Linked DNA regions of Homo sapiens. The protein of the gene in region 1 interacts with the protein of each later gene in a pairwise test. Each region holds a gene or a part of one and is shown in the gene's direction. Other genes may lie near its edges.

Evidence for each region. The genes of interacting proteins can lie anywhere in the genome.
Region 2: the proteins of SNRPA (region 1) and RASAL3 interact in binary tests that used the Homo sapiens proteins (3 or more experiments, as listed by UniProt).
Region 3: the proteins of SNRPA (region 1) and LENG8 interact in binary tests that used the Homo sapiens proteins (3 or more experiments, as listed by UniProt).

What each region holds. Positions count from the first base shown.
Region 1 is NC_000019.10:40,761,171-40,765,899, forward strand, and holds the end of SNRPA (U1 small nuclear ribonucleoprotein A), read left to right. Parts: intron 1-1,730; coding exon 1,731-1,904; intron 1,905-2,416; coding exon 2,417-2,505; intron 2,506-3,837; coding exon 3,838-3,997; 3' UTR 3,998-4,219; downstream 4,220-4,729. UniProt on the Homo sapiens protein: Component of the spliceosomal U1 snRNP, which is essential for recognition of the pre-mRNA 5' splice-site and the subsequent assembly of the spliceosome. U1 snRNP is the first snRNP to interact with pre-mRNA.
Region 2 is NC_000019.10:15,451,114-15,454,576, reverse strand, and holds the end of RASAL3 (RAS protein activator like-3), read left to right. Parts: intron 1-14; coding exon 15-216; intron 217-309; coding exon 310-428; intron 429-1,079; coding exon 1,080-1,470; intron 1,471-1,761; coding exon 1,762-1,919; intron 1,920-2,326; coding exon of another isoform or gene 2,327-2,432; exon of another isoform or gene 2,433-2,468; coding exon 2,469-2,532; intron 2,533-2,638; coding exon 2,639-2,782; 3' UTR 2,783-2,953; downstream 2,954-3,463. UniProt on the Homo sapiens protein: Functions as a Ras GTPase-activating protein. Plays an important role in the expansion and functions of natural killer T (NKT) cells in the liver by negatively regulating RAS activity and the down-stream ERK signaling pathway.
Region 3 is NC_000019.10:54,452,167-54,459,208, forward strand, and holds part of LENG8 (leukocyte receptor cluster member 8), read left to right. Parts: coding exon 1-101; intron 102-484; coding exon 485-586; intron 587-1,379; coding exon 1,380-1,490; intron 1,491-2,263; coding exon 2,264-2,516; intron 2,517-2,784; coding exon 2,785-2,926; intron 2,927-3,197; coding exon 3,198-3,401; intron 3,402-3,800; coding exon 3,801-4,079; intron 4,080-4,158; coding exon 4,159-4,299; intron 4,300-4,469; coding exon 4,470-4,755; intron 4,756-5,580; coding exon 5,581-5,682; intron 5,683-5,767; coding exon 5,768-5,836; intron 5,837-5,936; coding exon 5,937-6,066; intron 6,067-6,147; coding exon 6,148-6,355; coding exon of another isoform or gene 6,356-6,740; exon of another isoform or gene 6,741-7,042.

The sequences.
Region 1 (4,729 bases):
AGTTGGCAGAAGGGTAGGAAGACAGACCAAGGGGACAGGATGAAGAGTCTAGGTACAGCTACACTTGTATAATTACTTGATGTGTGATCGAGGTACCACTGCACTTCACTGAGGAAAGGACTTTTTTTCCCCTAGTTCATGATGCGGGGCAGTTGGGTATCTGCAAGGGGAAAAAATTAGCCCTACCTCATACTATATGCAAAATATAACTTGAAGTGAATTGCAGATCCAAATGTGACAACTCACAAAATATAGTTTCTTTTCTCTTTTCTTTTCTTTTTCTTTTTCTTTTTTTTTTTTTTTTTTTTTTTTTTGAGACAGAGCCTCGCTCTGTAGTCCAGGCTGGAGTGCAGTGGTGTGATCTCAGCTCTCTGCAACCTGCGCTTCCTGGGTTCAAGCGAGTCTCCTGCCCCTGCCTCCCGAGGATCTGGGACTACAGGCATGTGCCACCACACCCAGCTAATTTTTGTATTTTTAGTAGAGATGGGGTTTCACCATGTTGGCCAGGCTGGTCTCGAACTCCTGACCTCAAGTGATCCGCCCTCCTCACCCTCCCGAAGTGCTGGGATTACAAGCGTGAGCCACTGCACCCGGCCCTCACACAATAAAGTTTCTAGAAGAAAACAGGAAAATGTCTAAATGACCTTGGTGAGGGCATGAAAAGTGGAAACATCCTGTTTTCCAAACAGGATACAAAAAGCACCGAGTACAAAAGAAAAGATGGATGAACCAGGCCCACTCCTTAGGTCTCTGAGCCTCCGTGTCTCTCTGGCTTTCATGAGTCTCATGGCTCTGACTGGGTCATGCTCTATTCGGTGCCACTCACACTTTCTCCAAGTTGGTGATGGTGTCTGGATTACTGTGGGCTCCTGTTAACCTCTCTCCTCTTCCCTGCACCTAGTTTTCTGTCCACTTTGGACTTCAGATTGTGATTCCAGCCCCTGAGTGTGCTGCCTGCCATCTGTTGTCTTCCCTCTTCCCCTTGCTGCCACGCGTTTTGTTCTGCACCTGCCCTGAGTGTCCCTTTCCATCACTGCCCTCCTTTGTTTTTGTTTTTGTTTTTTGAGACAGAGACTTACTCTGTTGCCCAGGCTGGAGTGCAGTGGTGTGATCTCGGCTCACTCCAACCTTCTGTTGCCGGGTTCAAGTGATTCTCCTGCCTCAGCCACTCTAGTAGCCGGGATTACAGGTGCCCACCACCACGCCTGGCTAATATTTGTATTTTTGGTAGGGGCGGGGTTTCACCATGTTGCCCAGGCTGGTCTCAAACTCCTAACCTCAGGCGATCCGCCTGCCTCGGCCTCCCAAAGTGTTAGGATTATAGGCGTGAGCCATCGTGCCCGGCCTACCACACATTTCTTTCTGCACCTGCCCTGACTGTCCCTTTCCATCTCTTCCTCTCCTTTGATTTTGTTTAAGAGACAGGGTCTTGCTCTGCCTCCCAGGCTGGAGTGCTGTGGCACAATCAGAGCTCACTGCATGCAGTCTTGACCTCCTGTGCTCAAGTGATCCTCCTACCTCAGCCTCACAAATAGCATTTAACTCTTTCTGATTTAATGTCCCACTAGACCCTGGGTTTGTTTTGCTCTGTCGGGCCCTCTTTGGGTGCCTTTTGCGCCTCTTTCTGGGTGTTTTTCCTTACATCTCTCACCCGCTAGGTTTCCTTTCATGGCCTCTTCTCTGCCTCCTGGGGCTGCTGTAACCACGCACTCTCCTCCCTCTCTCCACAGGGCATGCCGCCGATGACTCAGGCGCCCCGCATTATGCACCACATGCCGGGCCAGCCGCCCTACATGCCGCCCCCTGGTATGATCCCCCCGCCAGGCCTTGCACCTGGCCAGATCCCACCAGGGGCCATGCCCCCGCAGCAGCTTATGCCAGGACAGATGCCCCCTGCCCAGCCTGTGAGTATCTAGTCCCACCCACCAGGTCTCATATAAATAGTGAGAATACAGGACTAGAAAGGGACCAGTTGGGGGGCTGCTGTAGGTTGGGTGGTCTGGGCAGGCCCCCTGAGGAGGTGGTACTGAATGAGGAAGTAGCAGTGGGGGTGGGCCCTGGGCAGAGGAATTGGCATGCTGGTTGGAGGGTACGGAAGGTTAGGGTAGGCTGGAGTGGTGCCAGCACCTAGATTGATTCCATGAGCTATTGAGCGCCTCCTTACGTGCCAGGCCCCGTTCTGCACTGTAGGGCTGCAGCAGGGACTGAGATAGAAACCTCTGCTGTCCTGTGGCCTATAGTCTGTAGGGGCAAAGAGGTGGGAGGCAGACAGGCAACAGACAACAATATGTGGTATGTTGGGTGGAAGTACCAGAGTGAATTCAAGCAGGGTGAGGGATGGAGGAAGTGGCAGTACTATGGGTCTCCCACTGGACTCAGGGCTCTTGTGCTCACCGACTCCCCTATACCCCCGCAGCTTTCTGAGAATCCACCGAATCACATCTTGTTCCTCACCAACCTGCCAGAGGAGACCAACGAGCTCATGCTGTCCATGCTTTTCAATCAGTAAGTGGGGCCTGTGGCTGGGTGGTCCCTGGAGGGTGATGGCCAGGAGGCATCTCCATGGAAACAGGCCTCAGAACTCTGCCAGCAGAGCTCTGAGCCAAGTAGGGCTTTGCAGAAGGGACAGCGACCAAAGATGTGAAAGGAGGAGGCTGTGGCTGGGCCCACGGCCTGTGGGGGACATGGGGGTGAGGCTGGAAAGGTCTCCATGGCCAGGGCTTGCCGGCTTTTTTCAGCCTTGTTTGAGGGCTGAGGGAGTCCAGGCTCTGGGCCTCATTTTCCCAGCCCCTAAAATGGGGGCATGCAAGGCAAGGTATGTGTAAAACTGCATTGAGATGTCCTTGAACATTGGCTAAGACTGGCAGAAGTCAGCGTGCTCAGAAACAGCAAGTGTGGGAGATGGGGATGCGTGAAACTCTTGTGCCTGGCGTCAGGGTGGAGGCCGGTGCAGCCGATGTGTAGAGGGGCTGTTCACCATTGTTGAGTGAAGTCGTGGGTGTGGGTGAGTTCATCTGGTGGTTCTGTTTCAGGGGCTGTGAGTGGGGCATTCGTCAGTGTTTGTGGTGGGGAGTTGGAGGGTGTCTGGGAGAAGGGATGGCTACATGCAGCATCTCACCATGCTGCACTGCGTGGCACTTAGAAGAACAGAAAGCGCAACTTTATAATAGTGCCGAGAGAAGATTGTGAGAACCTGAAAAATACAGAAAAACAATACCACATGTGCAGCCTGTCCACAAAGCTGTATATTTTGTGAGAATGCCGATGGAAAAAAGGATACCTAGTAAACATGAGGATGGCTGCTTAATGGAGAAAGAAGTATGGAATGAGAAGAGGGAAATTAGAGAAACAGCATATCAGAAAAGTGAGGGTAAGGCCGGGTGCGGTGGCTCACGCCTAAAATCCCAGTATGTTGGGAGGCTGAGGCAGGTGGATCACTTGAGGTCAGGAGTTCGAGGCCAATGTGGGCAACTTGGTGAAACCCCTTCTCTCCTAAAAATACAAGAATAAAAATGGAAAAAGTGAGGGTATTGGTTATTTTTTTGGTGTGGCGGGTGGGTTATGATTTAGGAAGGGCCCAGGAGACTGCGGTGTACTGTTTCTTGATTTAGGTTGCAGTTGCATGGGTGTTTGTGTTTAAATTTTTCATTAAATGCTATGTTTACATTAGAGTTTTTCAACTTAGTACTATCTGCATTTTGGGCTGGATAATTCTGAGTAATGGGGCCCTGCCCTGTGCATTGGAGGCTATTTGGCATCATTTCTGGCCTCTGTCCACTTGATGCCGTTACGTTAGGGGGAAATGCTGAGTCCCTGAGGTCTGTCGTTCTCTTTCAGGTTCCCTGGCTTCAAGGAGGTCCGTCTGGTACCCGGGCGGCATGACATCGCCTTCGTGGAGTTTGACAATGAGGTACAGGCAGGGGCAGCTCGCGATGCCCTGCAGGGCTTTAAGATCACGCAGAACAACGCCATGAAGATCTCCTTTGCCAAGAAGTAGCACCTTTTCCCCCCATGCCTGCCCCTTCCCCTGTTCTGGGGCCACCCCTTTCCCCCTTGGCTCAGCCCCCTGAAGGTAAGTCCCCCCTTGGGGGCCTTCTTGGAGCCGTGTGTGAGTGAGTGGTCGCCACACAGCATTGTACCCAGAGTCTGTCCCCAGACATTGCACCTGGCGCTGTTAGGCCGGAATTAAAGTGGCTTTTTGAGGTTTGGTTTTTCACAATCATTTGTCTGTCTGATTTTCTTGCTCTTCATGGTTCCTTTCCCTCCACCTCAGCAGCACATCCTGGGTTTTTGGACCTCTTGGCATTTTGAGGTTTGCAACCTTGGGGAAACATAGGATAGTGTAGTAATATTGTTCAAACTCAGGTTACAATGACTACTTTGGCAGTTTTGTATGTTGTCCCAATTCACAGCAGGAAATGGAATCCTGGGTCAGGAAATGGAAAGTCAGGGCTGCCGCGTACAGTTAGGCAGGATGGGTACTGCACAAGAATGGCACCTTTTAAGGGCACACCATTCACTTTGTAGGCTTACAAGTTTATGCCACCACTTTTCTAACAGATGACAAGAGTGTTCAGGGAGAGGTGTTTCTTCACCTTTTTTTTACTCTTCTCAAAAGTGCAGCCTGTTGTAGCAATGGCCCCAGAGAAACCACAGTAGGTAGTTCAAACAGAAAGGAATTTAATACAGGAAACTTGGTGCTGCTGAAATCATGGGGCGTGTGGGTGGT
Region 2 (3,463 bases), about 25 Mb from region 1:
TGGCCCTGATCCAGGTTCGGTGAGAAGGAGGCCTACATGGGCTTCATGAATAGCTTCCTGGAGGAACATGGACCAGCCATGCAATGCTTCCTGGACCAGGTAGCCATGGTGGATGTGGATGCTGCCCCCAGTGGTTACCAGGGCAGTGGTGATCTGGCCCTCCAGTTAGCTGTCCTGCATGCCCAGCTCTGTACAATTTTTGCTGAGCTTGACCAGGTATGGCCTGAACCCAGAGTAGGGAGGCAAGAAGGCTTGGGAGACTCTGACCCTGGAGACTTTGCTCAGTCTCTGTCCTGCATGCCTCACCAGACAACCCGAGACACCCTGGAACCACTGCCCACCATCCTGCGAGCCATTGAGGAGGGCCAGCCTGTGCTTGTGTCAGTGCCAATGCGTCTCCCACTGCCCCCGGCCCAGGTCCACTCCAGGTAACCTCAAGTCTGGTCTGGGGTCTGATGGGTGGGAACAGGAAGGAGCAGGGCTCAGACAGGGGTCAGAGGTGAAGTTGGATCATTGTGAGCAGAGGTCAAGCCCAGGGTCAGACGGGAATCACAGGTTATAGAAAGGGTTGGGTCAAAGGTCACAGTGTGTTTGAGGTCGGGGATGAGAGGAGAGGTTAGGGTGGAGAGATGTCAAGGGTCATAGAGAGGACAGTATTATAGTCAGAAGTCAAGGACAGGAGCCAGGCTCAGTGGCTCATGCCTGTAATCCCAGCACTTTGGGAGGCTGAGGCAGGAGGATCACTTGAGGCCAGGAACTTAAGACAAGCCTGGGCAACATAGGGAGACCCCATCTCTACCAAAAAAAAAAAAAATTACCTGGGTATAGTGGCATGTGCTGGTAGTCCTAGATATTTGGGAGGCTGAGGCTGGGGAATAGCTTGAGCTCCAGAATTCAAGGCTGCAGTGAGCTATGATCTAGCCACTGCACTCCAGCCTGGGCGACAGAGCAAGACCTTGTCTCAAAAAAAAAAAAGAAAGGACAAGTTCACGTGGGGGGTGAGGTCACTTCTGGTCAGGTCGGGATGGGGTCGTCTCAGGGGCCAGTGGAGGGTCTAAGATCCTCCATCCCACCCCTAGCCTCTCCGCAGGGGAGAAGCCCGGCTTCCTGGCCCCCCGGGACCTCCCCAAGCACACCCCTCTCATCTCCAAGAGCCAGTCTCTGCGCAGCGTTCGCCGCTCAGAGAGTTGGGCCCGGCCACGGCCGGACGAAGAGCGGCCCCTGCGGCGGCCCCGGCCGGTGCAGCGCACGCAGAGTGTCCCGGTCCGGCGTCCTGCCCGCCGCCGCCAATCTGCGGGGCCCTGGCCGCGACCCAAAGGCTCCCTGAGCATGGGACCAGCGCCCCGCGCCCGGCCTTGGACCCGGGACTCCGCCTCGCTGCCTCGGAAGCCGTCGGTACCCTGGCAGCGCCAAATGGACCAGCCGCAAGACCGAAACCAGGCACTGGGCACGCACCGACCTGTGAACAAGGTAAGGTCAGGCCCAGGTCCGCGCCTGGGGAGTGGGAACAGGGACGCGACTGGGGAAGACTGAAGGGCCAGGCAAGTCTGGGTTCAAGTACCCAGCTCGCTGTGCTGTGTGACCCCAGGCCTAGCCCGACCCTCTCTGAGCTTCAGTCTCCCCAGCTGTACCGCAGGAGGGATGTTCCCCAACTAGGCAGGCCGGTGATGACGCTGAGCGCTTGGGCCTGGGAGGTCAGGGTCTCCGGGGAGACACAGGGGCGGGACAACGGGTCAGATTACAGCTGCTCTCCCACCACAGTTGGCAGAGCTGCAGTGCGAGGTGGCCGCTCTGCGTGAGGAGCAGAAAGTGCTGTCCCGCCTCGTGGAGTCGCTGAGCACCCAAATCCGGGCCTTGACGGAGCAGCAGGAGCAGCTGCGGGGCCAGCTGCAGGATCTGGACTCCAGGCTCCGTGCTGGGTGAGCCCAGCCCTCTCCATTAGCTCCGCCCCCAGGTGGGCCCGATCCAATTAGATCTGACCAGGCCCTCCCCCCCCCCCCCAAACCACGCCTAGCACGGCCAAGCCCCACCCTGGCCCCGCCCCAATAAGTCTGTCCAGGCCCTGCCTCTTGGCAAGCCCCGCCCCCAGGTGGACCCACCCAACGAAGGTCGGCCTAGGACCCTGGCAGATTCTCTCATCCAGGCCCCACCCCTCCATCAGCCCCTCCCAACCTGGCTGGGCCGGGCACTGAGATATCTCAGCCTGGGCACTCCCTCCAGCTCAGTCACGACCCCACCCAGGACTGGCCAAACCCCACCTCCAAGGGATGATTGATAGGTCCTGTCATTCCAACCATTCCCGTCTCTGGTCCGACCCTTCTTCAAGCATATTTAGGCCCCGCCCCTCAGTCTGGACAAGCTCCGCCTCCACTCCAAGCTCCGCCCCCGGAGTCCCTGGCACTCCCACCAGGAGCTGGAAGGGACTTCCTTAGCCTCTGCCCTTCGCCCCAATCCCCCGACCCCCACAGGAGCTCAGAGTTTGATTCAGAGCACAACCTAACAAGCAATGAAGGGCACAGTCTGAAAAACCTGGTGAGATTGCCATCTGAGCCCTGGGGCAGGTCTGGGCGGTGGAGGAGCAAGGGTTGCGGTGCAGCCCTCTCCTGGTTTCTGAACCCCATCACCACTGCCTCCCCAGGAGCACCGCCTAAATGAGATGGAGAGAACTCAGGCTCAGCTGAGGGATGCTGTCCAGAGCCTGCAGCTTTCTCCAAGGACGCGGGGGTCTTGGAGTCAACCCCAGCCCCTCAAAGCACCCTGCCTCAATGGAGACACCACCTGAGCTGCCCATCCTGCCTCATCACACGTGGTCTGGGAGCAGAGAGATAGCCATCTTAGGGGGGGTGTCTGACTTTGCCTTAGCCCTACTTGGCCTACAGTGGGGAGTGGAGCTGCTGGTCCCAACCACTCTGGCAGTATGAAGTTGCCCAGTAAAATCTTGATTTCAGTGAAATTGGTGGTTTCTTTGCCCACTAAGAATTGCCAATTCTTAGGCATTTGCCCCGCAAGCCCTATTCATCTCTCCCAAATTCTCCCCTAATTAGAAGTCTCATGGAGAGGGCCATGTACACAAGTTCTCACCAGCTGTGTGACCTTAGACCTTCATTCTCTTAAGAGCCCGTTTTCTTATCTGTGAAATGGACGTAAAGTTCCCTACACAGTGAGAGGACCCATAGTTAAAGGCATTCGATAAAAGGTATTCACCATTGTTATAGGCAGCACCTGCTTCTCAATGAAGCATGGATTCCACCCCTGGCAACCTCCCAATCCCACAGTGAGAGCATCTTCCTAGGCCCTCCTCATGTCACGGAGGCCATGGGTCTGGGAGGCGGATAAAGGAAGGGGGTCAGGTGTGGAGATGGTTGGATACTGTGTATGAATGATTGGGTAAATGAGTCATTCAAATCATGGGTGAGTGGATGGGTGAGGGGTAGAGTGGGTGGAGCAAACGGCAGACGGATAG
Region 3 (7,042 bases), about 14 Mb from region 1:
AGTGGGAGAAGGCCCGTCAGGCCCTGGCCAGCATCAGCAAGTCAGGAGCTGCCGGCGGCTCTGCCAAGTCCAGCAGCAATGGGCCTGTGGCCAGTGCACAGGTGAGAAGGCCTCATGGGGCTGGGGTACCCTGAGCCAGAGGTTGTGGGAGGGACACAGTCTGGCGTCCTGTTGTATCATTCAGACGGGGTGCTCTGAGGGGAAACATGAAAAGACGTTCCAGGGTATCTAAATCTGAACGGGAAAAAGTTCTGTTTCCTTGAGGAAATTAGGGCGTGATGTGGTTCTGAAGAGGGAGGCCATGCCCATGCCCCTGGTCTCTAACGTGCGTGAGTCTCATGGTAGAGACAGTGGCTCACTTTGCAGATACATGGACCCAGTTTCATCCCTTGGCAATTGGCCACCAGTAAACAGGCTTGCCCTTTGGGGGCCGTGTGCCTGTGGATTTGGGCTGCTGACGGCACATGTGCCTCTGCTTCCACAGTACGTGTCCCAGGCAGAAGCCTCAGCTTTGCAGCAGCAGCAGTACTACCAGTGGTACCAGCAGTACAACTATGCCTACCCCTACAGCTACTACTATCCCATGGTGAGTGCCCAGCCAGTGGGGCGGGGCAGGGCGAGGTGGAGTCTGCTGGGTCGGGGCGAGGTGAAGTGGAGTCTGCCGGGATGGGGCTGGGTGGTGGATGGACTGGAGATCGCAGTGATAACTGCTCAGAAACCCTCTAACTTGCCCAGGAGGTAAATTCCTAGGTCCCCGCCATGAGCCACAAGGTCCTACATACCCGGTTCTGGTCCCTTCTCTCCTCATGCTCATTCTGCCATGGCCATCGAAGCAGAGACCTCCTTGATGCCCGCACCCGCCAGGCCCGCTCTCGCTTTGCCCTGGCTGCAGTGCTCCCTGTGTTGCCGCCTCTTGGAGGTCTCTGCTCAGATGCCGCCTTCAGAGAGCCTCTACCTGACACACTGATTGAAAGTAGCATTCCTGCCTCGCAGCCTGTCCCTCTCCCTTTCTTTGCCATCTTATTGTTTCATGATCCTTATTGCTGGATGTATTACATGTTGATGTCTCCAGCCGGACATGTAATTCCAGCACAAGCTTCATTACAGCATGGGTTTTCCTTTTGTTCTGTCGTAGTGCTTAGAAGAGTTGGCACTCAGTATCGTTGATTATATTCTTCCGAGAACTAGCTAAGTGAGATGTGGGATTGATAGAGGTTTTTCTTTTCCTAATATATGAGAGGATGTGGTGCATTAATATAGTGAAGAGAGAAAGGGGTGAGGGATTGGTAGAGGGTCATGGCTGGTGTAGTTCCTGAGCAGGCTGGGGAAGCGGAAAGGGTAGGCCTCCCACTAAACCCTCCCTCCCTGCGCCTTTGCAGAGCATGTACCAGAGCTATGGCTCCCCTTCCCAGTATGGGATGGCCGGCTCCTATGGCTCAGCCACACCCCAGCAGCCATCCGCACCCCAACACCAAGGGACTCTGAACCAGGTAACATCCTAGCCCAGCTCCCATACCCTGCTCAAGCAGAGGAAGTGTAGATTTTTGAATGAGCTGTCAATGAGGAATGGCTTGTACTCCTTAAGCTGCTTTTTTCCTTCCAAGCAACTCCTGATCTGAAAATGAGGAGGACAGAGCATAGTGTTTGAACCTGGGGTGGGTTTAAGGCTGAGCCAAGGCCAGGGCTGAGATGTTGAAAGACATCTCATCTTTTTCCCTAGCATGGTCACCCACAGGCGTGCACACACCGGCTGGGTTTTGCATTGAATGTGCAGCTTGGAGGAATGGCCGGGCTAGTGCACAGGAGGCAGGTAGACCTGGGTTTGAATCCCAGCTGTCCCACCCCTGGTGTAATTACGCATCTCGGTCAGCTCTCGAAAGCGGGAAGGATGGTAGCCTCATCCTTGGGCTCCATGAGTGTGTGTGCTCATGGGTGTCTTGTGCTCAGATGGTAGCGCTGGAGTGGGTGTGTTGTCGGTGGCTGTTACTCCAGCATTGAAACGCTGCCAGCTGCCGCTTCATAGCTTAGGGCCCTGGGAAGTCGCTTAGTCTCTGAGCTGGAGCCTTGTCAGCTGTGAAAAGGGCTGTTAACAAATGTTAACCTCACAGAGTTACTGAGGACTCGAATGAACTCACATTTGGGAAGGTCACGGGAGGGTTGAGTGCTGAGTGCTGTGACCACTGCGTCCTCACAGCGAGGGCTGAGTGCCACTCGCCAGCCCCAGAATCTGCCTCCCGTGCTCAGCGCCTGCTTCCTTCTGCAGCCCCCAGTCCCCGGCATGGATGAGAGCATGTCCTACCAGGCTCCCCCTCAGCAGCTGCCGTCGGCTCAGCCCCCTCAGCCCTCAAATCCCCCACATGGGGCTCACACGCTGAACAGTGGCCCTCAGCCTGGGACAGCTCCAGCCACACAGCACAGCCAGGCGGGGCCCGCCACGGGCCAGGCCTATGGGCCACACACCTACACCGAACCTGCCAAGCCCAAGAAGGGCCAACAGCTGTGGAACCGCATGAAACGTAAGTTGGCAGAGCTACGTGGAGGTCCGAGCGGTTGGGCCCTCATAAGAGCTCCTGGGTGTGAGGCCCGTGGTGTGTGCTGCTCCTTGTTTCTGGGTGTTGTGATCGCCAGGCTGGGGGTGGGGCTGCTCTGGACCAGGCACATGTGTGCTGGAGCCCTCCTCTAGAACCTGAGCGCTCCTCCCTGCATTTCCACTTCCTCCCGTCCCCTGGGGACCCCTGGATGTGCCGGGGAAGGGCCTAACCATAGCTTTCGCTGCCCTCACAGCCGCCCCTGGGACTGGAGGTCTCAAGTTCAACATCCAGAAGCGACCCTTTGCTGTTACCACCCAGAGCTTTGGCTCCAACGCAGAGGGCCAGCACAGTGGTTTTGGCCCCCAGCCCAACCCTGAGAAAGTTCAGAACCACAGGTGACGTCTGCCCCCTTGCCCCGTCGCAGCCCCACACTCTGCACTCAGCGTCTATGGTCCAGTCCCACTGGCCAGCTGCCCACCCTGAGCCTCAGTGTGCGCCTCTGAAAAGGGCAGAAGGACCCTCTCTTGGGGGTTGCTGTGAGCACTGAAGGAGACAGAAGGAAAACTTGGGGACTGCGTCCCGCTGTGTCAGCTCAGAGTGGCGGTGGGGATGGTCTTTTGAGTTTGGGATCGTCTCCAGCTGAGCCCCTCATCTGTCCTCCCGCAGCGGGTCCTCTGCCCGGGGGAACCTGTCTGGGAAGCCGGATGACTGGCCCCAGGACATGAAAGAGTATGTGGAGCGCTGCTTCACCGCCTGTGAGTCGGAGGAGGACAAGGACCGCACGGAAAAGCTGCTCAAGGAGGTGCTGCAGGCGCGGCTGCAGGACGGCTCGGCCTATACCATTGACTGGAGCCGGGAGCCCTTGCCGGGGTTAGTCTGGGTGGGGGACATAGGTGGGAGGGTGGTGCTGTGAGAGGCATGGGCTGGGTATGGAGGTAGGAGAGTTGCGGGTCCCAGGTACCAGGAGCTCCAAAGAGAAATGAACTGGAAAGTTGGATCCTGGGGGGATGAAGTCCTGGTTGGAGGGAGGCCGGTGGGGTGGGGTGGGGACCATGGGTGCTGGAGAGGCGTGCATTGCTCAGTGGTTAAGCGCACCCTCTGGAGACGGAAAACCTGGGTTCGCGTCTCATTTCTGCACTGTAGTAGCTGAGCCGCCTGGGGTAAGTGCCTTTCCTTTCGGAGGCGGGTCGGTACCTTGAGGGAGGTGGTGGCGGCTGTCCTGCCAGTGTCTGGCGGGGTTGGTGACGCCCTGCCCTGCTGTATTCTCAGGCTGACCCGGGAGCCTGTGGCTGAGAGCCCTAAGAAGAAGCGGTGGGAGGCCGCTAGCAGCCTTCACCCTCCTAGAGGGGCAGGCTCGGCGACAAGGGGCGGGGGTGCCCCGTCCCAGCGAGGGACGCCCGGGGCTGGGGGTGCCGGTCGAGCCCGGGGCAACAGCTTCACCAAGTTTGGCAACCGCAACGTCTTCATGAAGGACAACAGCTCTTCTTCCAGCACAGACTCCCGCTCCCGCTCCTCCTCCAGGTCCCCGACGCGCCACTTCCGCAGAAGGTACTGAGGCTCCCGGCTGGGGCTGTGTGTGAGGGAGGGGGAGGCGTTTCAGGCCTGACCCTCCTGCTTCTTCCTGCAGTGACTCCCACTCAGACTCCGACAGCTCCTACTCAGGGAATGAGTGTCACCCTGTGGGCCGCAGGAACCCGCCCCCTAAGGGCCGGGGCGGTCGAGGGGCCCATATGGATCGGGGCCGAGGCAGGGCGCAGCGTGGGAAGAGGTGAGACTGTGTGAGGGCTCGACACACGGGCCAGGGTGGAGGAGGGTACTGGGGACCCATGGGAGAAGGAGGAGGAGGGCCGGACAGGTGGACAGCCAGCTGCCAAAGGGGCGAGGCTGAAGGGGGGCTGGAGACGCCTGTCGCGCTCACTGCCCCTCATCCCTTCCTAGGCACGATCTGGCGCCCACCAAGCGCAGTCGAAAGAAGATGGCGGCGCTGGAGTGTGAGGACCCGGAGCGAGAGCTGAAGAAGCAGAAGCGGGCAGCCCGCTTCCAGCACGGACACTCCCGCCGCCTGCGCCTCGAGCCCCTGGTGCTGCAGATGAGCAGCCTGGAGAGCAGTGGGGCTGACCCTGACTGGCAGGAGCTGCAGATCGTGGGCACCTGCCCTGACATCACCAAGCACTACCTGCGCCTCACCTGTGCCCCCGACCCGTCCACCGTGCGCCCTGTGGCAGTAAGTGCCCAGCAGGGCAGTTCTGCTCTGTGAGGCCGTGCTGGCTCAGGACTTGGGGAGCCAACCCAGGGAGGGTGGCAGAGGCCACACGGGGGCTCTGGTATGGCAGGGGAAGCTCGGCCAGAGACGCCTCGGCTGGTCGGCATTCTGAGAGGAGCGCAAAGGCGCTCTGCTGCCCTGGAGCCCCGCGTGGCGGGTGTGCAGCTTGGCCGGCGAATCGCTTGACCTCTGGGCCGTGGTTCCTGGCTTAGGTGACACGGAGCATAAAGCCTTCTCCCAGGCCCGTGGGCTGTGGGGCGTGGGGGGCTGTGTTTCCAGTGTTTGGCGTAGTCACTGTTCTGCTGCAGAACCTGTGAACAGCCATGTGCTTATAGGGAAATGGGTGTGGAGGTGGCCACTCTTAACCCATGTCTTGTGGGTTTGTTTTCTCTTTTTTTGGGAGAGAGTCTGGCTCTGTCGCCCAAGCTGGAGTGCAATGGCGTGATCTTGGCTCACCGCAGCCTCCGCTCCCCGGCTTCAAGCGATTCTCCTGCCTCAGCCTCCCTAGTGGCTGGGATTACAGGCGTCTGCCACTACGCCTGGCTGATTTTTGTATTTTTAGTAGAGACGGGGTTTCACCATGTTGGCCAGGTTGGTCTCAAACTCCTGACCTCAGATGATCCACACACCTCGGCCTCCCAAAGTGCTGGGATTACAGGCGTGAGCCACTGCGCCTGGCCTTTTTTTTCTTTTTTTAATGTTGCAACTCTCCCACCAAATAAGTGGAAGCCGTTGGCCACGCTACCTGAGTTGTACTCCGAGTGTGAATTCAGTTCCCTTTTTCAGGTTTTGAAAAAGTCGCTGTGCATGGTCAAGTGCCACTGGAAAGAGAAGCAGGACTACGCGTTTGCCTGCGAGCAGATGAAGTCGATCCGGCAGGATCTGACGGTGAGACTCGCGCTGGGAGGGGCCTGGCCTCAGCCAGTCCTGCCTCCCGCTCCTTGTGACTCTTGTTCTCGCCCCGCTGCCCCAGGTGCAGGGCATCCGCACCGAGTTCACGGTGGAGGTGTACGAGACCCATGCCCGGATCGCCTTGGAGAAGGTGAGCTGGCCTCTGCGGGCCTCCCCAGCCCCTTTCCTGCTGCCGTTCTGCCCTCAGCACCCTCACTCTGCTCTCCTCCCTCGGTGCCTCTGCCTTCCAGGGTGACCATGAAGAGTTTAACCAGTGCCAGACGCAGCTCAAGTCGCTGTACGCCGAGAACTTGCCTGGCAATGTGGGCGAGTTTACTGCCTACCGAATCCTCTACTACATCTTCACCAAGAACTCGGGAGGTGAGGCCCAGTCCCCAGGACAGAGGCCATGGTACCCAGGGTTGAGCCCTGCTGACTTCACCCTCTTTGTCTTGGTGCTAGACATCACCACGGAGCTGGCATACCTCACACGAGAACTGAAGGCAGATCCTTGCGTGGCCCACGCCTTGGCATTAAGGACAGCCTGGGCCCTGGGCAACTACCACCGCTTTTTCCGGCTCTACTGCCATGCACCCTGCATGTCTGGCTACCTCGTGGACAAGTTTGCAGATCGGGAGCGCAAGGTCGCCCTCAAGGCCATGATCAAAACGTATGTGGTGCCAAGCTCCCTTCTGCCTTTGCTCTTCCCATCCTTCCGCCTCGCACCGCCCCTCAGACCAGCTCCTGGCCGCAGGCCTCCCCCAGCCCCCAACCCTTGTCCTGGTCCTTGCTTCCCCATCATCTTTCTCCATTCAGCCCTCCCCTCTCCAGTTCCTCTTGCTCTCCTTGTTGGTCACCTCTGTGTTCCGGGTCACTCCTCTCCCTCTCCCCACTGTTCCCAGCTCACTGCCTCTGGGGCCTCTTCTCCACCCCATCTGTGTGTCTCTTCCTCCTGTTCTCTCCTGCCTGGACCCCCTAGTTCACTCCTTGCCCTGGGCTTCCTCAGAACCCTGAGGTCTCTGCTTTCTCAGCTTGTCGCTGTGCTCCCACCATAGAGACCATCTAGACAGCCTCTGGTCTACCAGGACAAGGCCCAGTCCCACTCAGCTCCTTTGAGAGCACCAGAAACGCTTAGGGAGACACCTGTGTTGAGGCCACACTGGGCGCGGTGCCAGAGGCCCCTGGTCAGGCCATGCCCCTGCAGTGTCCTTCGTTCACTAGACATTGCGCCTGGCTTGCTGTGGGTGGGGATGAGTTGCTTGACTCATGTTTAGACGCATGGTTCTGTCTGGTGATTGAGGTGCCCAGGCGACGCTGGGCAATGTCAAGAGAGGTTTTCGCTTGTCACAGCAAGGGG